Homo sapiens: one gene and its partners. The protein of the gene in region 1 purifies or fractionates together with the protein of each later gene. This does not show direct contact. Each region holds a gene or a part of one and is shown on either strand. Other genes may lie near its edges. The genes, in order: SRXN1, THADA, CCDC102A, TOM1L2, UNK, TPM4 and FGL1.

Region 1 (4,118 bases):
GGTGCGCACGGGAATTATGTTTCGAAAGGGAAAGGCTGGAGTCTTGGTGTCAGTGTTCTAAGGTTTTGTGAGAGACTAAGAACCCAAAATAAATGATCTTCAACAGCAAAATGGATGTTATGCAATTCACAGAGCACTATGAGCACTCTCTCAATTCACACAACTTTGAGTGATGGGCAGCATGACTTCATTTTACAGACGGGGTTCAGAAAGTGTCAGCAACTGGTGGAAGGCAAAGTAGAAACTCCTGGCTCCCTCCTTCGTCTCCAGTTTTCTCCAGCTGGCAGGGTAAGTATGCATTTCTCCATGTTCGTGCCATTCAGGTTGAGAAGGAAGACAAGCAAACCAGACATGCTTGTCTTCGACCGAGTCTGGGATCGTCCACCTTCCTGCTTGGAGTTGGTGGTTAAGTGGCCCCACAGTTTGGACTCGTGTGACCTGACTTTCATTTCAGCTGACCTTGAACAGCGGGTCTATAACTGCACCTACTTCCAGTAGTGTTGTAATGACACAAACAGACAGTGTGGAACTTGAAGGCAGGGCCCACCCATTGTCAGCGCGACTCCTGAGGGCTCCGTGTGACAGTCACTGTTGCTGAACCAAGGCAGCCAACGGTGGGGTAGAAGGCGGACTCTGGAGCCAGACCGTCTGGATTTGAACGCGGATTCGGCCACTTACTAGTTCCGTGATCTTGGGTACATCACTTAAACCTGTGTCTCAGTCTCCTCTTCTGTAAAATGGGAATAACAGTCATACCTTCCTTGCAGGGTTGTTTTGAGGTTCAGATACGTTAATACACGTGCAAAATGTTCGGAACGACTCCAGACACAGCCGGCGCCAGACTGGAAGTGGAACCGCTGGTGGGGATCATAACCTCGCTGGCTAGGAACCCCAGCAGCGGGGCAGCAGCGCACCGCGGGCTTTGCCGACTCACCCTGGCTGGGCAGGTCCGCCGCGCTCTCCCCCGCCCCCGCCCCCGCGGCCTAAGTCGGCCCGGCCGGTGCGTCACCCGCGCCCCTCCCGCCCCGCGACCTGCAAACTCACCCTGAGTCAGCCCGCCCGGGCGTTTCCACTCCCCGGACGCCGCGCGGCGCAGGGGAGGCGAGAGGCGCCCCCCGGTGGAGAGCCTGAGCCCCGCGCGAGTCTGGCGGCACCTGGCGAGCGGAGCCGGAGTCGGGCTGGGGACCGCGGGGTCGAGGCCGGACCGCGGCGGGGTCGGGGGAGAAACGCGCGCTGCCCTGGCACGGGCCCCCCCCCCCGGCCGCGCGGAATGGTATGGCCCGGCCGGAGTTAAGGCCGGGGGGAGGCGGCGAGTCCCGCGGCGGCGGCGACGATGGGGCTGCGTGCAGGAGGAACGCTGGGCAGGGCCGGCGCGGGTCGGGGGGCGCCCGAGGGGCCCGGGCCGAGCGGCGGCGCGCAGGGCGGCAGCATCCACTCGGGCCGCATCGCCGCGGTGCACAACGTGCCGCTGAGCGTGCTCATCCGGCCGCTGCCGTCCGTGTTGGACCCCGCCAAGGTGCAGAGCCTCGTGGACACGATCCGGGTGAGGCCTCGGGGAGTCCAGCCAACCGGAGGGAGGGCTTCGGAGGAGGGAGGTTGCCGGAGGAGGGAGGTCGCTGCGATGGACGCGAGACGGACTGGTTCCGGGCCCAGCCGGAGCTCAGCCTCTGCTGTGTGACCTTGAGCAAGTAGCTGGGCCTCTCTGGGCCTCTGTTTCCTCACTTGAGCAAGGAGGGAATTGGGCGAGATAATTAAAGTAGTGATGATAACGCTTATAACGCTAGTGCTTGCAGTGGTCCAGGAACTGCAGGAAGTCCCTCAGTTTCCTATGCCAACCCTAGGAGGTAGATAGTGGCTCTTTTGCAGACGAGAACTGAGGCAGGGAAGATTTCAGCGGCTTGACTAAGATCAGGCGCTTAAAAAGTGACACGGCTGGAATTCACACCCAGGCAGCCTGGGCCCCACTGCCCAGCACATGGCCACCGCACTACCCGGAGATAAGCCGTGGGCTCTCATGGCTGTGACAGTCAGTGACAGTGGGACTAGGTGTGTCATATCTGCTGGGAGGCCCTTGTCTGAATGGGAAGTGGGAGAGGTCAAGGGTCAGCTCCACCACTGAGGAAGGGTGTTAAGAATACCGGAGTGATTCTGGCAGGAACTTGGGGGCCCCGCAAGAACAGGTGTCAGGTTAGGCCTACATAACGTTGTGTCCCCTTCCCCCGACCCTTGGAAGGTGAGCACATGAGATCCCTAAGCCCCACCCAGCACCTCTACAGCCACCCCCGATAACTTTCAGTCCTAGTATTTACACTAGTGTCCTCACTGCCTGGAGCCACTTCCCCAGACAACCACAGGGCCTGCTCCCCTGCCTGGTTCAGCTCTCTGCCTCCTTGATCACCCTTGGTCAGAGTCACTGGCCTCTCTAGCTCTCCCCTTAGCCCGAGATGTTTTTCAGGATACCACTTATGTCCACCAGAAATTATATTATACATCTATTTGTGTTGCATTTTATTTTCTGTCTTCCTGACCTCACGTGCACTCCACAAGGGCGAGGACCTCGTCCCATCTTATCTGTTGCCACAATAGTAGCACGGCGCCTGGCTGAGATGGGAAGGGATCTGCCATGCATGCCCTGTCCCACCACTGGGCTTTTTCTCCCGTTGAGAACCTCTTCTATCTCTGCCTTGTCGTTTCTCACTCTTTCTCGGTCTTCCTGTCTCAGTGTCAGGATCTTCCCTGACCATCCCTACCGGGTTAGGAGCTTCTGTGGGCCTGCAGCCACCTGTGTGCCCACCTGCATAGCTCTGATCTCACTGGCTTTTTTTTTTTTTTTTTAAGACGTTGTCTGGGTCTGTCACCCTGGCTGGAGTGCAGTGGCACGATCTTGGCTCACTGCAACCTCCGCCTCCCGGGTTCAAGCCATTCTCCTGCCTCAGCCTCCCAAGTAGCTGGGATTACAGGCGCCCACCACCACGCCTGGCTAATTTTTGTATTTTTAGTAGAGATGGGGTTTCACCCTGTTGGCCAGGCTGGTCTGAAACTCCAGACCTCAAGCGATCTGCCCACCTCGGCCTCCCAAAGTGCTGGGATTACAGCCCACTGGCTTTTAACGTCCTGTCTAGACACCTGCCTTCCGTGCTAGAACCGTAGGCTCTGAGGGCCAGAACCAGCTCTGCCTTTGCTTACATACACCTGTATTAGTTTTCTGGGGCCACTGTAAGTTACCACAAAGTTGATGGCTTAAAACAACACAGGTTTATTTATGGTCAGAAGTCCAAAATGGGTCTTACTGGGCTAACACCAAGCAGGGCTGCACTACTTTCTGTAGGCTCTAGGGGAGAATCCATTTCCTCGCCTTTCCCAGCTTCCAGACGCCACCCACACTGCTTGGCTTATGGCCTCTTCCTCTGTCTTCAAAGCCAGCAACATCAGGCCAAGGCCTTCTCACATCGCATCACTCTGACCTCTTCCTCTACTTCCTCTTCCAGTTTTAAGGACCCTGATAATGGCATTCGACCCATCTAGATAACCTTGGATAATTTCCGCATCTCAGGATCCTTACCTTAATTCTGTCTGCCAAGTCCCTTCTCCCATGTAAGGTAACACATTCAGAAGCATTCGGGCGTGGACATCTTTGGGAGCCATCATTCTGGCCATCCACCATCGTGCCTCCAGTACCCGGCACAAGGCCTGCCTGGCACGGCTGCCCTCCTTAGTGCTCCACTAATGCCCGGTAGGCATCAGCTCACTGACTCTTCATCAGCAGCCCTCTAGGATGTTTTATTCCCAGTTTACAGGTGAGGAATGGTGTTCAGAGGGCTGTGTGCCCCAGCTGCTGTGGAGAGGAGCTGAGATCCAAAGTCAGGTGTGCCAGGTTCCAGAGCTCAGGCTTGTGACTGCTGCACCTTACTGCTGAATAATCATTTGTGGAATCATGAGAGAGAACCCGTGGACCAGCAGCAGGAGGCCTTCCACGCCGCTCACACTTAATGGGGTCTCCCCAGAGTGCTCTACCCTGCACCCGTCCTGCCCCAGACTTTCCCTGTTTAGAGGATGACCTACTCTCCACCTGGCTGTGTGGGCCCCTAACAGGAAGTCAACTTAGATTCTCCCTTTTC
Region 2 (2,844 bases), on another chromosome or scaffold:
AGGAAGGCTTCCCTGTCCAGTGTCTCCTCTGCACATCTGCCTGGATTTGACTGGTTTGCCCTTTCCTTGGAAAGCAGATCTCTTGGGCACAAGACACATCCTAGAGCAGGGCATCGGCAAGCTTTTCCTTAAAGGGCCAGAGAGTCAATATTTTAGACTTTGCAAGCCTATACCTCCTCACCTCGGCTGAAAGCAGCCATGGACAATCTGTAAACAAATGGTTGTGGCTGTGTTCCAATAAAACTTTATTTATGGACACTGAAATTTGAATTTAATGTGTCACAAAATATTATTTTTTCCCAACCAATTAAAAATGTAAAAACCATTGATAGCTCATGGGCTGTAAAAAGCAGGTGGTAGGCTGCATTTGGCTCCTATTTTGCTGCCCTCTGTCTCGGAGTTTTTTGTTTTTGGACCCTTGTTTTCCTGGGTGCTTGGAGGAAGGGCACTGAAAGAATAGAAGGGTGCAGAAAGAGGAAGCAGGGGGCCTTGGGGAAACCATTGCTTATTTCAACATTTGGCCTTAGACAATCCTAAATATGGGTTTGGAGGGAGGCTCAGGGGTGTTGTCACTTCCCCTAACAACTCTGCCCCTCCCATCCCAAACCTGGAGGGTGTCTGAAACACGGGACTGAAAGCCCACTGCACAATGGACCTCTGTAGGCCCATCTTGCACCAACTGACATTGAAAGGCCTGTCTTTCAATGATGCATTTCTATTGAGCCCTGATCACTCCCAAATCCACATCTCTAACTTGAGCACACAGACTTACCCTGACCATCTGGCCCCCGAAAGACTTACTCGGCACACAGGCAGACGACCGAGAATCTGCAACAGCAGGCTTAGTTCCCGTGGGTGTTGAACCAGGCTTACTGGGATGGCCCCACTGAGGGCCTAGTGAGTGCCAGGCCCTGATCAAATGCTGTCTCCCCAGTCCTTCTAGCATCCTATGGGTTGGGTATTATGTAACCCACTTGCACACATCAAGAAATTACAGTTGGCAACAAGTTTCATGGTGCATGCAAAGCGCAGATTTGGAGACCCAGCATCAACAATCCAGAGGTTTTGATGGTGGGGTCAGCAGGGGTAGTGACCCTGCAGTAGGGCCAGGACTATTCAGAGGTCACACAGCAGCACCTAGTTGCATGTAAGCAGGTGAAAGTACTGATCTCACCATCTTGAGAGCTCCAGATAAGTCCCCCAGGACACTTGCCCTTTAGTGTCCCCGTTCCCCATGCTGCTTGCTCTGCAGCCTAGAACCCAGATTTAAACCAGGAAACAGAAAAGGGGAGGGGGTGAAGGTGCATTTTGGCTGTGGGTCTGAGCCATGTGTTGACTGGGCCTCTACCTACAATACAATCTCCATTTTTACCTCTACCTAACTCCTTTCTGCAGTTCTCAATTGGCTGAGAATCTGTATAGAGAAGGGATAATTAAGTGGCCTTTTTCTTTCTTTTTTCCCTTCAACTTTTATTGATTGATTGAGACAGAGTCTGTTGCCCAGGCTGGAGTACAGTGGCGTGATCTTGGCTCACTGCAACCTCCGCCTCCTGGGTTCAAGCAATTCTCCTGCCTTAGCCCCCAAGTAGCTGGGACTATAGGCATGTGCCACCACACCCAGATAATTTTGTTTTTGCCCAGCTAATTTTTGTATTTTTTGTAGAGACTGGGTTTCACCATGTTGGCCCGGCTGGTCTCAAACTCCTGACCTCAAGTGATCTACCCACCTCAGCCTTCCAAAGTGCTGGGATTACAGGTATGAGCCGCTGCACCCAGTGGGTTTATCACTCTTTTTTTTTTTCTCAGACTGAGTCTTGCTGTATTGCCCAGGCTTGTGTGCAGTGGCGTGATCTCAGCTCACTGCAACCTCCACCTCCCGGGTTCAAGCGATTCTCCTGCCTCGGCCTCCTGAGTAACTGGGATTACAGGCTCCTGCCACCATGGCTGGCTAATTTTTGTATTTTTAGTAGAGATGGGGTTTCACCATGTTGGCCAGGCTAGTCTTGAACTCCTGACCTCAAGTGATTCACCCGCCTCAGCCTTCCAATGCGCTGGGATTACAGGCATGAACCACTGTGCCCAGCTTATCACTTTTTTGTTGTTGTTGTTTTGTCTTGAGACAGAGTTTCGCTCTTGTTGCCCAGGCTGGAGTGCAGTGGCACCATCTCGGCTCACCGCGACCTCCGCTTCCCAGGTTTAAGAGATTCTCCTGCCTCAGCCTCCCAAGTAGCTGGGATTACAGGCATGCGCCACCACACCCGGCTAATTTTGTATTTTTAGTAGAGACGGGGTTTCTCCATGTTAGTCAGGCTGATCTCGAACTCCTGACCTCAAGTGATCTGCCCCCTCGGCTTCCCAAAGTGCTGGGATTACACCCATGAGCCACTGTACCTGGCCTCCCACCACTTTTTTTATGGTCTCCTTAAGGCAAGGACTGAAAGCCCAACAGGGAAGAAAAAAATTTCATCATCCATCAGCAAAATCAGTATCTGCAGCTCAAGTGACATTCCTGTTGAGTCCATAAAGAACCTATGGGGGTGACCAGAGATGCCACCAAGGAAGGCTAGGCTGCTGCACTAGCCCCACCTGACAGGACAGGTAGCCTCTATCCTGCACCATTTTTTTTTTTTGAGACAGAGTCTCGCTCTGTCGCCCAGGCTGGAGTGCAGTGGCGGGATCTCGGCTCACTGCAAGCTCCGTCTCCCGGGTTCATGCCATTCTCCTGCCTCAGCCTCCCGAGTAGCTGGGATTACAGGCACCCGCCACCACGCCCGGCTAAATTTTTTTTGAATTTTTAATAGAGACGGGGTTTCACCGTGTTAGCCATGATGGTCTCGATCTCCT
Region 3 (3,500 bases), on another chromosome or scaffold:
GAATGAACGCACGCGCTGGGGATGATGATGGAAACAAACCAGTCCTCAGATGGAAAGGGCTTCTGAGAGTGCAGCAGGATGTTCTCTCCCCTTCTCTGCCGGAACCACCCCTCCCTGACACCGTGACTCACCGCAAACAGCTCTCTTGTTCTCTGTGTCTCACTTCAGCCTCCCCATCGCCCAGCACTGGGCTCTGCCATTTATGGGCCATGCCCCCCTCCTCCTTAAAATAAATGAGAGGCATGTCCCTCTCTGTCCCCAGTCTCCCTCCACTGCGGCCTCTGTTGACTGCCACCCACCAACAGCCCCTTGGGACATCACACTTTTCCTTCCCCATTAGGCAGAGAGCCCTGGTCCACAGATCTTCACACCTGCCCCTAAGACCCACCCTTTCTGAGTGATCAGTGTACTGTCGGTGGGACTCGGCACTGGCTGTCCCCAAGGCTGCCTGGCAGCCCTCTATGTCCCCTCTCCACCTTCTTCCAATCTCTAACCCACCTCATTCTCGGCAGATGATCTATCGTCATGATTTGCAGTGAAAAAGGAAGCTGTCAAGCCCCACGGCCCCCTCCTCTCTGCCCCTGAGAGGACAGAGGGGTTCTCCTTCCTTGAGCCGAAGGCCTCCCTCCTGCCAGTCCCACCCTAGCCAGTGACGTCCTTTCCAGGGGTCTTACCCCTGCTGAAGTGTCTCCTGACACCTTCTTCTCCCCTCCCCTGGCACCTCCCTTTTAAGGTCCTTCCAAAGTGGTCCACACTCGCCGTCTCCACTCCGTCTACCTGCTTGGCGCTCTGTCACCCGGCCACCTGTGCCAGGCTGGTTTCCAGTCCCCTGTGACGGTGTGCCCTCTGGACCCACCGTGGCACCTGCTTCCCTGCCTCACTTGCTTCCACGTCTTCCTCTCCAGGTTTCCCCTCCTCTCCAGCTGCTCGTCAGCCTCCCAGGTGAACCCCCTGGGCTTATCCCTCGAATGCGGCTGTCATCGGGCCCTGGGCCCCCTTCTCCTCTCACGATATCCCTGCCCGAGCCATCTCGCTATGTCCCCAACTCCAAGTCCCTCTCCAGCCCAGGTTGCCCTCAGAGCTTCCCATACCTCCAACCGGATGCCTGATAGATGATTCAGGCTCATCTTGGTTAAAATAGAACTTGCTGCCTCCATTCCCCCCGTGACCAGCTCCTCCTGGGTGCTCCTCCGAGAGAAGGCACTTCCTCACTCCTTCCAGAGAAGGCACTTCCTCACTCCTTCCAGCTTTGAAGGCACCCTGAAATCTGCCTTCTTTCCTCCCCCACCCACCGCCAAACCTTGTCAGTCTATCTGCTGTGCATCCGCCTTCCATCCACCTTCTTTGTCCACAGTCACTAACCTGTCAGGGTCCACACCACCTTCACTCACCTGGGTAACAGTACCCACACCCACCTCCCTGCCCATCATGCACTTTCACCTCCTTCAAATCCATTCTCAACAGCAACAGCCAGAGTGAGTTCTTGTAAGAACCTGACCACTCTGATGGCCCCTCCCTGTGTCATTACCAATACTGATTCCTCCCTAGCCTCAATTCTAAGGTTACTCCCTCTAGGACTCAACTCCAAATACTCTCCAATCCCAGCAGGAGCCGCAAGCCACTGATCCCACCACTGCACTGCCCACCCCCATGTCCCTCTCTTTCCCAGCTCACCTTCTGTGCTCCTAATTTCTCCCTTGCCAGCACCCTCTGTGCCCTAGGCCCCTCCTGTTCTGGCTTCTCCTGGCAAACGCCAACCCTGTTCCCTCCACTGCTTTGCCCACTCTTACCTTCAACTATGGAGCCAGGCATTGGAGGTCTACACCACCACGTGGAGCAGTATTTTTTAAAACTCATGACCTTTTGTCAAGGTTCCTCCGTGCTGCTCAGCGACCCCGCTGCATTTCTCTAGGCCATTTGCTGTTTGTTTATTGTCTGTCTGCCTTTACCATGCATGAGGTCTAGGCCCAGCTCTGACACCAACCTCATGTAAGCCACTGTCCCTTTCTGGGCCTCAGTTTCCCCATGTGTAGAAGGGGGGATGTGTGAGAGAGACCAGTGCTTCTTCATCAGGGTGTCCTTCAGATTCACCCAGACACTTGGCCCTATACCCGAGAGAGTCATGTTTGCTAGGTGTGGAGCTTGGAATTTGCATTTTAATAGTCTGGGATATTTGAGTATTTGGCGATGCTTTCTTACTACCCACAGTTCCATAAACACAACATGTACACCCCGACCCTGATAACATCTGTGTCACGCACCCAGACACAGCCATACAGATCCAGGCTCTGGTTCCATGTACACCACTGACACCCCAGGAGATCCCTAGCAGCCTGTGCCTCTGTGACCCAGTCTCTCCGCCTGTGCAGTGAGCTGGCTGGCCTTGATGCCCATGTGCATTCACAAACATCTGTGCACACACAGACATGCAATCCCATGCACAGATGCAAAGACCCAGGGGCAGACACACATATGCTCAGATGGACGGACAGGCACACAACGACACGGGTGCATGGAGAGACATTTGCCTGTAGACACAGACACGCCTGAAGACACACATATGCCAGCACACTGACACACAGGTACAAGGACATGCAAGGAGACATGCTCATCCCCAAGTGAAGCAGACACACACACACACACACACACACACACACACACACAGAGGCAGACACACACACTCCTCCTTTTCCTGGCCTAGCTCCACATAGAGAAGCTCTTGGAAAAGAAAAACAATGTGAGAGCCTGTGGGGGGAGGGGAGGAGGAGGAGGAGGCAGGAAACCCGAATGCCAGCCGGCAGCTGTGCTGGGTATGGGGGCCCGGGCCCTGTCTGCTGGGCCCTTCTTGCAGCCGCTGAACTAGGAGCCTGGCAGGGAGGGGGCCACTGCCACATCCTCCCTGCCTCTGGGAGCTGCCAGGCCTGGCACAGGGCTTGGCCCAGAGAGGGCCACCGGCTTCTTCCAGGAATCCAAGCCTGTTGGGCAGGGCCAGGGCAGGCACCACCCAGGTCTCTAATGGCTTCCAGGCACCCATGCTAAAGGCAGAGATGGGGGCTCCAGACTCACCTCATTCTCCTTCCCAGCGGCCTGGCCAGGCCCCTCCTAGGGGCTGGGGGAGAAGGAAAGGGCACAGCAGGAGCACGGAAGTTTTGGAACAGCACTCCCACCTTTGCACTTCAGGCCCAGGGTCCCCTGGAGCGGGTGTGTGGGAAGGGGTGGGGGTCGGGGTCCTCAGGGGAGTTTTCTGGAGAAGCCCACCCCGCCCCCAGCACACCAGGAATCCTGCACTCCCACATAGACCCAAGGGCAGCCAGACCCTGCCTTGCAACGCCTCCCCCTACCCTGCCCCACTCATACAGCACAGCCCTGGGGACACACACTCACATACAGCCCCAGTAATGCACACATTCACACACACACCCCCAGGGACCCGCACTCACACACAGCCCCAGTAATGCACACACTCACACACACACCCCCAGGGACCTGCACTCACACAC
Region 4 (3,500 bases), on another chromosome or scaffold:
ACCTCCTCCTCTAGCAATTCTCCTGCTTCAGCCTCCCGAGTACCTGGGACTACAGGCGCACACTGCCATGCCCGGCTAATTTTTTTGTATTTTAGTAGAGACAGGGTTTCACCGTGTTGCGCAGGCTGGTCTCGAACTCCTGAGCTCAGGCAATCCACCCGCCTCGGCCTCCCAAAGTGCTAGGATTAAAGGCATGAGCCACCGCGACTGGCCCAATGTGAATATATTTAATGCCATTGAACTGCACACTTAAAACCAGTTAAAATTGTAAATTTTGGGCCTGGTGTGGTGGCTCACGCCTGTAATCTCAGCACTTTGGGAGGCTGAGGTGGGTGGAATCACAAGGTCAAGAGATCGAGACCAACCTGGCCAACATGGTGAAACCCTATCTCTACTAAAATTGCAAAAAATTTAGCTGGGCGTGGTGGCGCGTGCCTGTAGTCCCAGCTACTTGGGAGGCTGAGGCAGGAGAATCGCTTGAACCTGGGAGGCAGAGGTTGCAATGAGCCGAGGTCGTGCCACTGCACTCCAGCCTGGGCAACAGAGTGAGACTCCGTCTCAAAAAAAAAAAAAATGTAAATTTTGTTATATATATTTTATCAGGTTTTTTTTTTAAAGAATAAATAGAAACAGGTGCCCTCATGGAACATTTAGTCTAAATGATGTAAAACATAACAACACATTTTGCTTTTACATACTCACTTGACCCCTGTAAGATGTGATGGTGCAAGTGTTCTTGTACTCCCTTCACCACCACAGTTTACAGATTGGGAAACTGAGTTTTAGCACAGTTACTGGACTCATACAAAAGCAGTCGCATCGAGAAGCAAAGATGGGACTGACTCCAATCTAGAACAAAGAGTGCTAAGTGCTGGAAGAGAACAAAGAGAGAGCAATGGGAATCCACATTCCTATTGGTGGAACTATGCTATCTTTCTGGAATTCCTATTTGAAATCAGTTTAGGCTCCTTCTTGTCCAAATGGAAACAGACCATGCTTGATGTCTAAAAGGCAACATGAACAAAGAAAAACGCTGGAGCTAGAGCCCCTGGCTGGAGAGGACCGCTCCGCCTACTTGAGCCAGGAAACCTTGGGCAAGTTTCTGAACCCCTTTAAGTCTCTATTTCTTCACCTGTAAGATGAAGATAACAGTGCTTCCAGAGAAAAAAATTTTTAAATGAGATAAGTATGCACAGCACTCAGCAAGGTGCCTGGCACATGGTGAGGGGCCAGGAAATGATGGCTAGTAATGTTAGCTTTCAAAGATGCTAAATACCAGTGACAAAAAGAGTGAATAACTATGAAGAATATACTCTACCATGTGCTGTGAAGGTCACAAGGAAACAGAAAGTAGAGGAGCCTCCAGCCTTATTCAGAAGGTATGGCAATAAACACATGATAAATAACACAAGATAAATAACAACAGTAACAGTGGAGGGAAGGAATCAAGAAGTCTATATTAGTTGATTGCAGGACACCGTGCTAGGGATTTTAAGCACATTATCTCATTTAATCGTCACAAAAACCTGGAGGACAAGTAATATTTTCTGTTTTATAGATAAGAGAAGAGCCAAATGAATGATATGGATAGCAAGCACTGTGAGCTCAGAGAAGAGATTCATCACCATAAACAGGGTGGTCTAGGAAGGCTGCCTGTAGGAAGAGGTGAGGGCTGATGGGCATCAGGCTTGATGACTGAATGGAGAAAAGCAGAGAATCTCCTAAATCAAGAAGGTTGGAGGGAGCAATAACATATGTAACCAAGTCTGAGACTGGTTTTAAAAGTCGCCTCTTTTAACCTCAACAAGCCGGGTCAGCAGGAAAAGCCTGAATGTTATTTATATCTTCTCAGACTACTAGGTTAGCGCAACATTTCTGGGTGATTTATCTGCTAGGTCAAGAGCAACAACCCCTAACTGATGCTCCTCTGGGCAATGTATTTACACCGTTTTCCTTTCCTAATATCCCAAGTAAATAAATAAATAAATGTAGATTATACAGAAATATGCTAAAAGTTGTTCTACAATGTCGCCTCTTCAAGGCATGAGAAGATGAAGAGTGAAATACAAAAGTATTCCATTATGTGAAATAAGCATCTCAACAAATTTGTGAGGACGCACATTGTGGAGATTTTTTTCTCCTTTGCATTTTTTCTATATCTTTCATATTTTCTATCGGTTATACATCGTTTTGTAAAAAGCACAATGAAAGGCTGGGCACAGTGGCTGAAACCTATAATCCCAGCACTTTGGGAGGCTGAAGCGGGAGGATCACTTGAGCCCAGTAGGTTGAGGCTTTAACTACGATCCTGCCACTGCATTCCAGCCTGGGCGACAAAGCAAGACCCTGTCTCAAAAAAAATAAATAAATAAAAAGCACAATTATATGAGAATTTTAGATATTCCGATAGCCCACTCCTAAGCAGTGGCATTCCTCTAGAAAAGCCCTGGGAATAGGTCAGCCCTGTCATTGCATATGATAAACAGAGCAGGAGGAGGAGCAGGCTGACGCCCCACGTGACTTTCAATGTCAGGGGTTTTAAGACCTGTCCAGGCAATTAAGGACAAATGCTCTAGACTAGACTTCTTCTCAATGCTCCATCAACCTGCCTTGGCACCTTTCTGTTTCTGAGGGGGCTTCATAGACAGTGTCCCTACCCTTGACCACAGCTGACATCCCCCCTCCTTCCCCCACCTTCCCTCCCCAATTCTGCACAGAAGCGGGCTTTCATGGTAGAGAGAATGATCTTCTGGTGACTGCTAAGGAGAAATCTCCCTACCTCTGTAATGATATTCATGCTTCCATGCTATTCCCCTCCCTAGAAGTCTTTCATGCCTCCCCAGTACCTCTAAAATATAGTTCAAACTACTTAGCCAACATATGAAGCAAGCCCTCCACACAATCAGGCCTTATCCTCCCTTCCCAGTCTCACCCCCTATCACTCCCCTTTGCTAGGCACACAGAATAAATCCCATCACCCCCGCCTACCTCTTAACATCCAGCATTTGCTCAAGTTGTCTCTGCCAAGAAACCAAACATCCTTTTCCATTTCTACACAAACCAAATCCTCCCCATTCATCAAAGCCCTGCTCAGCAGACACCACCTCCTCAGAGTTTTCCTGAGTTCTTCCTTCCCTCCTACAGTGTTCCTCCTCACTTTACTCTTGCTGAGGGCAGCACAGCGTGACAGGATACCAGCTCTGGAGCCAGAATGCTGCATTCAGACTATAGCTCCCTCACTGCTAGCTGTGTGACCTTAGGTAGGTTCCATACTTTCTCATTGTCTTAATGTCCCCATCTGAAAATGGAGATAATCACAGTACCTTCCTCACAGCATTGTTGTGAGGATCGAATGACTGCAAGATGTATAAAGTGCCCACTTCAGTCTCTGGCACATAGGAATACAACATTAAACTTTTTTTAAAACCCCAAAAACGGGGCCGGGCATGGTGGCTCACACCTGTAATCCCAGCACTTTGGGTGGCCAAGGTGGGTGGATC
Region 5 (3,500 bases), on another chromosome or scaffold:
AGGGGGAGAGCGAGCGAACAAAACTGAGTTTCTGCTCTGTTCTTCCAGCCCCCGCTTTCCCCCACCCCACGCCCACTCTGTGAAGGAAGGTCTTGGGCTGGATGCCACCTGGCACTGGGGAAGGCCGGCAGGCACGGGGCCTGGTACCTGCTTGGCCTGCTTCCAGGACTCCTCCCACTGCTTGATGGTGCTGTTGGCTTCATCCAGCTCTTGCCGAAGTCGGGCCAGCTCGGCAGCCCCTGGCCCTGATAGGAAAGCGGGGGAAGTGCCCGGGGAGAAGCTTCCAGAGGCAAAATGCTCCCAGATGCTGCTGTTCATCCCGTTCAGACCTGCCCCAAGGAGGGGAAGAACATCAGCTCCGGAGGGCTTTGGGCCCAGGCCCTGGCCAGCCCTGCCTCAGAGGTTCCAGGGACTGGCTGTCCACTGGATGGGTGTGCAAGGCTCCAGCTAGTGTCAGGCCAGAGAATTTTGCAGGGACAGGAAGGCTGTGAAGGTGCAGGTGGCGTGGGCGGAGTCAGACCTAACCTTGAGTGACACCTGCTAGTTGGTGCCACTCAACTTCCGAGGCTCAGCACCCTCATGTGGGAAATGGGACTCCCACACTGGCCTCACCGGGTAACTCAGGGGACTCAGGAAGTACTGCATGTGAGAGCAGTCCCAGGCCCCCGATAGTGGCAATTTATGATTGTGGCTTCACTTTTAGGCTAGGGCCTTTTTGCAGCCTGATGTGAGGCCCAGGAAGAGATAAAGGGGAAAAGACAGGCCAGAGCCTCATCGGATGGCAGAGCTGGGGCAGGAAGAGCTCAGGGAGCCTTGGGGCCATCCCCCTTGTTTTACAGACAAGGACCCTGGATAAAATGTTTTACCAAGAATCACACAAATTGTAAGTGGTAGGGCCAGGACACAGACAGGGAGTGTGGTTCCAAAGGCCTATGCTTTCCAGTCAACTATGCTGCGTGCACAGCCTCCCACCCACCGCCAACCCAGCTGCCCTCTGCTCACTCGCTCAACAGATGTTTACTAACATCAGGTCCCCCTGCTCTGGCCCCCAGGGCAGCCCCGGGCTTCCGAGAAGGACCCATATCCACCTCTGGCCTCACTCTGCCCATATGTACTTTCTGGTGACTTCTTCCTTGCTCCCTTTCCCACTAATCCAACCAGGATGTTCCAGAACCAGATTTAAGACGCTTTGCTCTCTGAGACACACAAGTGCACCCACAGAGGAGGGACATGGTCCTGTGCGGAGACCCTGTGGCATGCACTGTCTGAGCCATCTGCCCCATCCCAGAGGAAGACCTCAGGGTCACCCCACCCACATGAGACCAGCCCTGCAGCAAGCTCTCCTGTCCCACCCATCTCTCCTCCTCCCTTGGAGAAGCTCTCCTGACTCTGCTGTCCAGGTAGGCCCCTCTATGATTCTCAGGAGGATCCCAATGGCTGGGCACCTCTGCTTCCCACACTGGCCACAGCTGCTGGACAGCAGGGACTGTTGCACTTACACCTGTATCAATACACCTGTGCTCAATAGTCACATGGTGCAGGAAGGAGTGTGTGGCCAGTAAGTGGAGCTAAGTCTAGACGCCACCAGAAGCTGGGCATGGTGGTGCACGCCTGTGGTCCCAGCTACTCAGGAGGCTGATGTGGAAGGATTACCTGAGCTCAGGAGTTCCAGGCTGCAGTGAGCTAGGATCATGCCACTGCACTGCACTCCAGCCTGGGTGACAGACTGAGACCCTACTCGAAAAAAAAAAAACAGATCCTATCCGAATATGGGGCAAGTCCGAAAAATGCAACACCAAGCACCTAAAGCTGACAGAATCAACGTAACAGAGAACAGCCTCTTCAAACTGGAAGGCGCTGAGAAATCCATGTGCTGTTCTGGGATCAGGAATGAGATAAGGGAAGCCACCAAACCCAATCAGAACTCTGAAGGGCTCATTCCCTGGGCCCGAGCAAAATGCTGGCACTCTCGGGGAGGGAGCTCCTGGTGTCTGCAGCTGCTGGGGGAGAGTGAGAGCGGTGGTGCCATGTGCTTCCCATCCCGCCCTCAGGAACATCCCCTGACACACACAAGAGGAGATGCACAGCCGGCCCGCAGTGGCACAGGCCTCTGTGCCATTCTTCTAGCCACTAAACCTTGAAGTGCCCTCAGAAACCCCCATTCCATACCATTCTAATTCTGTGGGCAAACAGCCTTCTGGGCCAGCCCTGGGCCTCCCTGGAGCCTCTGCCCGGCAGGAAGGGCACCCGAAGCCAGGGGTTAACCTGTCTGGCTTCTCCCTTGGTCCCCTGTGAACCTGGCTGGTGCGAGCCAGCCTCTCGGAGCCTGGGGTGACTGGGCAGAACAGAACCATGCTGTGAAAGAGACCAGGCCCAGCCCTGGCAACTGAGACCCCTGCTCTCACCTGCACTGGCCTCGTGCCTAGCACTTCAGCCCCATTACTCCATTCAATGCTCACAACGTTAGGAGGTGGATGCTGCCGTTATACCCATTTCACAGCAGAGGAAACTAAGGCAGAGAGGCTCAATCACTTGTCCAGGGTCACACAGACAGGAATCTGACTCTGCCTCCTCGCCCAAGGCCTCTGCCCTAACCCCCAGCCTAGCTGATATGCCGTAGATGGGGTGGCCAGAGGCACCTCCTAAAGGCGCAGGTTCCTGCCCCAGTTCTCCTGAGTGAACCACTCCCTCTCTTACCCAAAGATCCATGTGATGCTGAGGTTCCCAAAAATGTGTTTTCCGACTGACTCAGGTGGCCCTGGGGCTGCTGCAGGAAATGCGAGGAGAGGCTGACGGGAGGGGACGGGGATGCTGAGTGGAAGGAGGCAGAGCTGCCCAAGGAGCCGGGGATGTTCACGGGTGCAGAGCTCTGCAGCAAGCTGCCGCCTGCAAGAGAGGCCCGGGGAGGACGGGCTGGGTGAGGGCAGCGGAAGCCAGGCGGGCCACACAGAGCAAGGGGCCTGAGCCAGGCAGGAACCCGAGGAGTCCTCCAGGCTGCCCTGCCCACCCACACCCAGTACCGATGGTGATGCTTCCTGGGTGGGGCACTGTGCTGTTATCGAAAGTCTTCTCCAGGGCGGCCACGCCAAACTCATTCAGGTCCAGGTCATCCAAAGCAGACTCTAGGGACAGAGAAGAGTGGGATGTGACCTCCCGAGGGACTATCTGACCCTGACCACCTCGTCTACTGCCCACGCTGCATCTTCACGCCCATGCTACGCTGGGTCCGTATTCTCCCAAGCCCCTGTGCCCTTCCTTCAGCTGCTTCCTATGCCAATCCTGACTCCTGACTTCTGACACCGTCTGCCAGTCATGTCCAACCCAAATGCCTCTCCTTTCTGAATCTTCTTTGATACTTCCAGGAGAAATCACATCCCCATCCAGGGTCCCTGCCTCGGACAAGGGTCTTGTCCCCTGATGTTACAACTCAAGGGTCTCAGCCCCGGGATCAGTGGGGGTGGGCGGGTCTCTGGGCACTCAGTGGCTGGTGTATAGCAGGT
Region 6 (4,108 bases), on another chromosome or scaffold:
AAAAACTGTGTACCCATTAGCAGTCGAGGAATTGATTTTAAAGATCAAACAGAGGTGCTTGATTCATGAGTTGTCTTTTAAGAAGTGAGTAGCCCTTATGTGGGAAATTCTGAATCCTGGCAAACAACGCTTTTGGCAGATTTTCAGCTGTCTGGAGTTGGGAGATACACGCATATCTGTACATGCATACATATATATGTATTTTTGAAAAACTGCTAGTCACGGCCGAGTCATTTTGGGTTCCACCCCTTCCTGCAATCAAAGCCTTCCACACGCTACAAAGGATTTCCCTTATAAGGTAAAAGAGGCTTGCTAGATACATGTGGCAAAGGAACAGGAAGATGTCAGTTAATCACACAAAAATCTAAACGAAACCAGCTGTCGGGAAACAGGCCCAGAAGTCTACCACACGCCGGCTCCTGGCTTATTCTACAAGAGTGAAAGGTTTTTTTTTTTTTTTTTTTAACCCACCCCTGGTCTTAGTTCCTTTTGCCCTGGGAGAGGTTTTCCCTCTCCCAGACGGAAAGAAGCATCCTTTGCTTTTTCAAGAACTTTTCGAACTTTTTCAAGAAGTCTTCAACTCTCCAAAAACATCTTCTCTCCCAACTAGACGGTCTTGCTCCTAAATCTTGGCTCCAGGCTGAGGGCCATTTTGAAGCCGAGTTAATTGTCCTCCAGCGAGATGACTTGGGATGAGATCAGAGCAAGAGCTGTGTCGGTTAAGTGTGAGAAAGAGGCCAGACCGGCTACCGATTGAGGCTTACACCGGGTTTCTAAGGCCTCTTGGGCCAAAGCAGCCCTTACAGGATTAGAGGCTTCAACCAAGGCCCATGCTGCAGCCCCCATCTGGGCTCTTTCCAGTCCTGGCAATTCACACCACCAATTCCATCTGGCTGGGCATCTTTTGCCTCTCTAGGGTCCCCACCCTGAGCCTCAACACTGAACTTTCAGGGCTTTTGGGCTTCAACCTCTATCCGCACACCCCCCCACCCTCATCATACAACTTTCTTGCCTCTGAGTCTGTGCACACCCATGTCTCTGGTCCCAGCAAACTTATTTATTCTATAAGACCCAGCTCAACCTCCATTTTGGAGCCTCCCCTGTCATGCTCCCATAACTGCACAGAAAACCCGTGGAATGCAGACCTCGCTCCATCAGTGAGTCAGCTCCCCTGCCTCCATTTGTCTATGAGCTCTTCCCAGGGCAGAGAAAACACAATTGAGGCTGGGCGCCGTGGCTCACGCTTGTAATCCCAGAACTTTGGGAGGCCAAGGTGGGCAGATCACGAGGTCAGGAGTTCGAGACCAGCCTGGCCAGCATGGTGAGACACTGTCTCTACTAAAAATCCAAAATAAAAAAAAAAAAATTAGCTGGGCGTGGTGGCGGGCACCTGTAATCCCAGCTACTCGGGAGGCTGAAGCAGGAGAATCTCTTGAACTCGGGGGGTGGAGGTTGCAGCGAGCCGAGATCGCACCACTGCACTCCAGCCTGGGCGACAGAGTGAGACTGCCTCAAAAACAAAACAACAAAAAACAACAACACAATTGATTATTTACAAAGCGCCAGGCTCCACGCCTGAGATTTACTCCTGGGACCCTCCCTGCTACTCTGGGGGGTCGGGATTCTTATCAGTCCTACTCGCAGATGGGAAAAAAGCTCCTAGAGAGCAAATACCAAGTCATGAAGCCTGTGGGTGGCATGATATGGGACCAGAATCCAAATCTGTCCCCAGACCCTGGCGGTGCCACCATCTGTCCCGAGGGACAGCCAGGAGGATGATGCAGAGAGGATGGTGAAACTCCCTCCTTTTTCAGACCCATTGTTTATCTCGGGCCCTGCGACTCGCGGCGGAGGCGCACAGCAGGCGCTCAAACGATCGTGGGTTCAGGGCCCCGCGCCAGCGTTCCCGGGGCCTTCTGGAGAGAGGCAGGGTCCCGCCGCCCCGGTTCCCGCAGGAATCAGCTGGAGAAAGGCGGGCGGCTTGGGGCTGAACTTCCTCCACCCCCCATCCCCCCCGCCGCCTGGAGCAGACACGTCGCCGCCGCGCCCCTGGGAACGGTCAGGGAAGCAAGCAGAAGCCGGGAAGCCGCGAAAGAGGCGAGAAAGTGCGACCCCCTCCCCAGATCCCCGGTCCCCCGTCGAAATCCCTGTCGGCCGGTCAAACCCTAGACAATGGAAGCTCCACGTTTTCATCCTCATTCTCCCCCACAAGTCCGGTCGCGGGTTCCCCTCGGCCCGGGACCCCGGCGCCAGCCCCGGAGTCGGAGCCTGCACGATACGCCCCCTCCCGCCGCTCCACTTCTCCACCCGGAGATCGCTCACCCCCTCCGCCCCATCCCCCCATTTCCCGCTTGGCCGGCCCCGCCCGACCCGGAGGCGGCGCCCCCTCCCCTGTCCCAGGCCCAGGAAGGAGGACGGCGGAGGAAGTAGGGGGTCCTGGCTGCGGGCGCAGGGATGTGGGTCGGCGATCGGCGTCCGAGGGCGTAAAAAGGCGGCCCGAGGACTGCGCGCGGGCGGGCAGCGCGGGAAGCCGGGAAGAAAGGAGGGCGCGCGGGGGAGGAGGCTGCGGGTGCGGGGCCCGAGGCCGGGGCGCTCACTTTCTCGCGCCGCTCGCGCTCGCCGTCCAGCTCCCGCTGCAGGCCCTGCGCGCGGTCTTCCGCCTCGTCCGCCTGCTGCTGCAGGGCCTGGATCTTGCGTTTCACCGCCTCCAGGGAGTTGAGGCCGGCCATGGCGCGGAGGCGCAGAGGCGCACGGGCAGCGGCGGACGCTCGGCTGGGCTCGGCTCCGGCGAGAGCTGCACAGCCGCGCCCCGGCCCCCCAAGCCTTTGCCTGCGCGGGGGCCGCCCCCGCCTCTCCCCGCCCCCCGGGCCGGCTGCCGTCGGGGCGATGAGGTCACCCGGCCGGACCGCCGACGTCAGCACCGCTGGGGGAGGGCCTGACGTCGGCACCGCTGGCCACAGCTGCTGGAAAGTGCCCCTTTTCGGGACTTATTTGGAGAAAGCGCTGGGAGGCGCCGCCTTCTCCTCCTCCTCTTCCTCCTCCCCCTGCGGCTCTCCCCGCCTTCCCGGCCCCGGGGCTCCGGCCTGGCCCCGCCGCGGGCTCCCGCATCCCTGCACACGTACGTCGGAGGCCTTCTTCTCCGTGAGCTCCAGCTTCTCCTGCGCGTCCTTCAGGTCCTCGGAATATTTATCCAGCTCGTCCTCTGTCCCTTTTAGTTTCTTCTGGAGGTGCGTCAGCTCCTCCTCCACCTGGGGACGACAGAGCGAGGAACGGGTCAGCCTGGGGGGGGGGTCACGTCCCCGAGGTGCAGGGGCGGTCCCCCCCAATATTCACAAGAGTCCTCCGTCTCTCTCTGGGCATCAGTTTCCTTATCTGTAGAACAGGGGTTGCGATAGCATGCACCACGCCATCCATGCTACCTGATAGTGGGATTTTCACATCTTTCCCTCGTCCTGAGGACCAGCTGTTTTGGGCTTATTGGGGTCCCCAGTACTCTAGGGAGATCAATGGCAGCTTTTGGGAAACTGAAGACTCCAAATGTTTTCCAGAAATACACACATTCCAGTTTCAGAGGTGCAGCCTCACCATGATCTGGAGTTAAGCAATCTCATTCTCTGCGCGTGGATCCCTCCGCCCATCCCTGTCCCCAGCCTTTCTCCCTCTGGTTCTGACCCCAACACGGGGTCAGAGAAACTTTCTAACAAATACGCCTGCCCTCTTTCTGCCTAGAACCTGCTATGGCTCCCTATGGCCCAAGGCAGTGGTTCTTAGACTGTCTTACCAAAATACTCTGAAGGGCTGAAGGGCTCAGACCTAGTCCCTCATTTCTGGGCTTTGGGGAGCTTGGCTAGAAGAGACTCGCCCCTACAGGATCACTTTCTTTGAAGGCTCGGGTTAAATCTTTAAAATTTTTGCATATAGGCCATGTTCATTTTAATAAAAATGTCCCCTACTTTCCCTAAATTTTCAGTCCTCTGTTTATCCCAAGAGTCCTATCCTCCCATCACTCCTAGTTTGAGAAGCTCAGGCCTATGGATTACAAACCACAGACCCCATCACCTCTCTTTGTCACCCCCCACCACACCGGTCTAGAGTTGGCTCAAGAAGA
Region 7 (3,500 bases), on another chromosome or scaffold:
ACCACCGCTCTGACAATGGGCAGGGAAATTTCGGTAAGCTTCTTGGGAAAACTATTGTCATATTTATAATGCCTGCTTTTATCTGAATTTTCTTTCATTTTGCATTAAACCTATAGTGACTTGTCATTGAAAAAACTTAACTATGTGGGAAAAGCAAAGAGGCTGGTAGAAATACTGGACACATAGTAAAGCAGCACTTTAAAGCGCTTTACATTTTTGCAGGGGAGGCCGAGATGGGTGGATCACAAGGTCAGGAGTTCGCAACCAGCCTGGCCAATATGGTGAAACCCCATCTTTACTAAAAAAAATACAAAAAATTAGCCGGGCGTGATGGCACGCATCTGTAGTCCTAGCTACTCGTGAGGCTGAGGCAGGAGAATCCCTTGAACCCAGGAGGCGGAGATTGCAGTGAACTGAGATCATGCCACTTCACTCCAGCCTGGGCGACAGAGTGAGACTCCATCTCAAAAAAAAAAAAAGTGCTTTACATTTTTTTAAATAAAAAGTATTCATAATAAATAAGTAATTTTTAAAAATTCACTGGAGTTATTTGGTTGGAATATTAGAAATTTGAAACTGTCCATAGTAATTAAAATTAACCTTGAGCTTTTCAATATTGAAAAGTGTAAAACTAACCAGATTATTTGAAAGTAATTACATCGAACTTGTGTTGTCCTTCATTTGTGAATAAAAAAGACAAAACATTCATTCAAAGTTCTTGGAGAAAGAAAACTCCTAGGTTTTAAATAAGCTTACTAAATATGCGTATGCAATCTCATAAAGATTGGGCATACTTGACCTGTGATGTCTTCAATTATTTTAAAATTGCATAGTGCACTATGTTTAACAATATCACAACCGATCCCCCACTGTTGTAAAACAACTCAGGACCCAGACACCATAAAATGTTCTTGCTGTTCATTTTTTAGCCTATGTGACTCAAGGTGCTAAGCAAATAACTATCTCAGAAGGGATAAATCTGAGTGTTAGGGATAGAGTAACAAGAACAAATAAGAAGTAATCCTAGAGAGGCCTGGTGCAGTGGCTCACGCCTGTAATCCCAGCACTTTGAGGGGCCGAGGTGGGTGGATCGCTTGAAGCCAGAAGTTTGAGACCAGACTGGGCAACATGGCAAAACCCCATCTCTACTAAAAATACAAAAATTAGCTGGGTGTTATGGCACACAACCTGTATAGTCCCAGCTACTTGCCAGGATGAAGCACAAGAATCGCTTGAACCAGAGAGGCAGAGGTTGCAGGGAGCCGAGATCGCACCACTGCACTCCAGCCTGGGCAACAGAGCAAGACTCTGTTGAAAGAAAGAGAGAGAGAGAGAGAAGGAATCATCCTAGAAAAATGGCTGGGAGAGGTTCTGTGACTTGGACCTAGGGATGGGAAGAAAGGAAAGAAAGAAAAGAAAAGAAGGAAGGGAGGGAGGGAGGGAAGGAGAAAGAAAGGAAAAGAACAAAAGAAAAGAAAAAGAAGAGGAGAAAGAAATCATTTTAGAAAAATGGCTGGGAGAGGTTCTGTGACTTGGACCTAGGGATGGGAAGAAAGGAAAGAAAAGAAAGGAAGGAAGGAAGGGAGGGAAGGAGGGAAGGAGAAAGAGAGGAAAAGAACAAAAGAAAAGAAAAAGAAAAGAGGAGAAAGAAATCATCCTAGAAAAGATATCTGGGAGAGGTTCTGAGAAAGGAAACGTAAGGGAAGAGGAAGGGAAAGGGGAAGGGGAAGGAAAAGGGAGAAACCATCCTAGAAAAATGGCTGGGAGAGGTTCCATGACTTGGACCTAGAGATGGGAGGGAGGGGAGATGTACTACATATATATATATATAAAAAATATATATATATTATAGACTATATAAATATAAATGTATTATATATGCATATGTATTTGATATAATATATACTATATAAATCCATTATGTAATTTTATATATACGTATATTATGTATAAATATAATATATTATATAAAGTAGACTATAATATAATAAATACAATTATATTACATTATATTATATATAAATATATTTAATATATTATATATTATTTATATTTATATATTATATAATATCTATTCATTTATATTCATATATATTCATATTATATATTTTGTAATATATATTATATATTATTATTATATTGTATATTATTTTATATATTATATATTATTATTATATTATATATTATTTAATATATTATATATTATTATATGTTATTTAATATATTATATATGATATATATGATATATTATTTAATATATTATATATGATATATATTATATATTATTTAATATATTATATATGATATATATTATATATTATTTAATATATTATATATGATATATATTATATATTATTTAATATATTATATATGATATATATTATATATTATTTAATATATTATATATGATATATATTATTTAATATATTACATATGATATATATTATATATTTAATATATTACATATGATATATATTATATATTTAATATATTACATATGATATATATTATATATTTAATATATTACATATGATATATATTATATATTTAATATATTATATATGATATATATTATATATTATTTAATATATTATATATGAGATATATTATATATTATTTAATATATTATATATGAGATATATTATATATTATTTAATATATTATATATGATATATATTATATATTATTTAATATATTATATATGATATATTATATATTGTTTAATATATTATATACTATATATTATATATTGTTTAATATATTATATATTATATATATTATATATTATTTATATGCATATATAATATATATAATATATAATATACATTAAATATACATATTTAAAAGTATTTATACCAGACAGCCATTCAAAAACCTCATTTATTATGGAGATTTACATGCCAACAGTACAATTAACTTCTATAAACCACATTACTGTTTAGAAAACACATAAGCAATGTCATATAGAGATTGAGAGCACAGTCCTTGAACTGAATTTGAATCCCACCTCCGCTTACCCACTGGGCATCAAGACTGAGCCCTTTCCTACCGCATGGAATTGTTATGAGGATCAAAGGAGACAACTATAAAGCTCCTAGCATAGCGATTCCAATTATTTTATATTATTTGATCTTTTGAGTCCAGGAGTTTTCGCATAAGCCATAATTTCCAATTCTTCAAATAGTAGGCAGTATTAGAACTTTTCAAGCCACTTTCTCTTTGGAATAATATTCTGAAATGGGAACTGGAGACAAAATGGAATCACTGATTTATCCAAATGTTTAAAAAGCACTTGTTTTCCATGAAAATGAGGTGCATACTCATCTCATCTCACCTGTTTTGCAGGCGCTCGAGGACTGTGCCCAGGAGCAGATGCGGCTCAGAGCCCAGGTGCGCCTGCTTGAGACCCGGGTCAAACAGCAACAGGTCAAGATCAAGCAGCTTTTGCAGGAGAATGAAGTCCAGTTCCTTGATAAAGGAGATGAGAATACTGTCATTGA

What was found.
Region 2: the proteins of SRXN1 (region 1) and THADA fractionate together in Homo sapiens (co-fractionation; one large-scale study listed by BioGRID). This does not show direct contact.
Region 3: the proteins of SRXN1 (region 1) and CCDC102A purify together in Homo sapiens (affinity purification with mass spectrometry; one large-scale study listed by BioGRID and IntAct). This does not show direct contact.
Region 4: the proteins of SRXN1 (region 1) and TOM1L2 fractionate together in Homo sapiens (co-fractionation; one large-scale study listed by BioGRID). This does not show direct contact.
Region 5: the proteins of SRXN1 (region 1) and UNK fractionate together in Homo sapiens (co-fractionation; one large-scale study listed by BioGRID). This does not show direct contact.
Region 6: the proteins of SRXN1 (region 1) and TPM4 fractionate together in Homo sapiens (co-fractionation; one large-scale study listed by BioGRID). This does not show direct contact.
Region 7: the proteins of SRXN1 (region 1) and FGL1 purify together in Homo sapiens (co-immunoprecipitation; one large-scale study listed by IntAct). This does not show direct contact.

The regions. Positions count from the first base shown.
Region 1 is NC_000020.11:650,401-654,518, reverse strand, and holds the start of SRXN1 (sulfiredoxin-1), read left to right. Parts: upstream 1-1,318; 5' UTR 1,319-1,333; coding exon 1,334-1,543; exon of another isoform or gene 1,544-1,566; intron 1,567-4,118. UniProt on the Homo sapiens protein: Contributes to oxidative stress resistance by reducing cysteine-sulfinic acid formed under exposure to oxidants in the peroxiredoxins PRDX1, PRDX2, PRDX3 and PRDX4. Does not act on PRDX5 or PRDX6.
Region 2 is NC_000002.12:43,233,195-43,236,038, forward strand, and holds part of THADA (tRNA (32-2'-O)-methyltransferase regulator THADA), read right to left. Parts: intron 1-2,844. UniProt on the Homo sapiens protein: Together with methyltransferase FTSJ1, methylates the 2'-O-ribose of nucleotides at position 32 of the anticodon loop of substrate tRNAs.
Region 3 is NC_000016.10:57,530,072-57,533,571, forward strand, and holds part of CCDC102A (coiled-coil domain-containing protein 102A), read right to left. Parts: intron 1-3,500.
Region 4 is NC_000017.11:17,962,401-17,965,900, forward strand, and holds part of TOM1L2 (TOM1-like protein 2), read right to left. Parts: intron 1-3,500. UniProt on the Homo sapiens protein: Acts as a MYO6/Myosin VI adapter protein that targets myosin VI to endocytic structures. May also play a role in recruiting clathrin to endosomes. May regulate growth factor-induced mitogenic signaling.
Region 5 is NC_000017.11:75,819,306-75,822,805, reverse strand, and holds part of UNK (RING finger protein unkempt homolog), read right to left. Parts: intron 3,123-3,500; coding exon 3,021-3,122; intron 2,887-3,020; coding exon 2,698-2,886; intron 330-2,697; coding exon 148-329; intron 1-147. UniProt on the Homo sapiens protein: Sequence-specific RNA-binding protein which plays an important role in the establishment and maintenance of the early morphology of cortical neurons during embryonic development.
Region 6 is NC_000019.10:16,075,187-16,079,294, reverse strand, and holds the start of TPM4 (tropomyosin alpha-4 chain), read right to left. Parts: upstream 2,801-4,108; 5' UTR 2,730-2,800; coding exon 2,598-2,729; intron 2,280-2,597; exon of another isoform or gene 2,165-2,279; intron 1-2,164. UniProt on the Homo sapiens protein: Binds to actin filaments in muscle and non-muscle cells. Plays a central role, in association with the troponin complex, in the calcium dependent regulation of vertebrate striated muscle contraction.
Region 7 is NC_000008.11:17,882,025-17,885,524, reverse strand, and holds part of FGL1 (fibrinogen-like protein 1 precursor), read left to right. Parts: coding exon 1-33; intron 34-3,345; coding exon 3,346-3,500. UniProt on the Homo sapiens protein: Immune suppressive molecule that inhibits antigen-specific T-cell activation by acting as a major ligand of LAG3. Responsible for LAG3 T-cell inhibitory function. Binds LAG3 independently from MHC class II (MHC-II).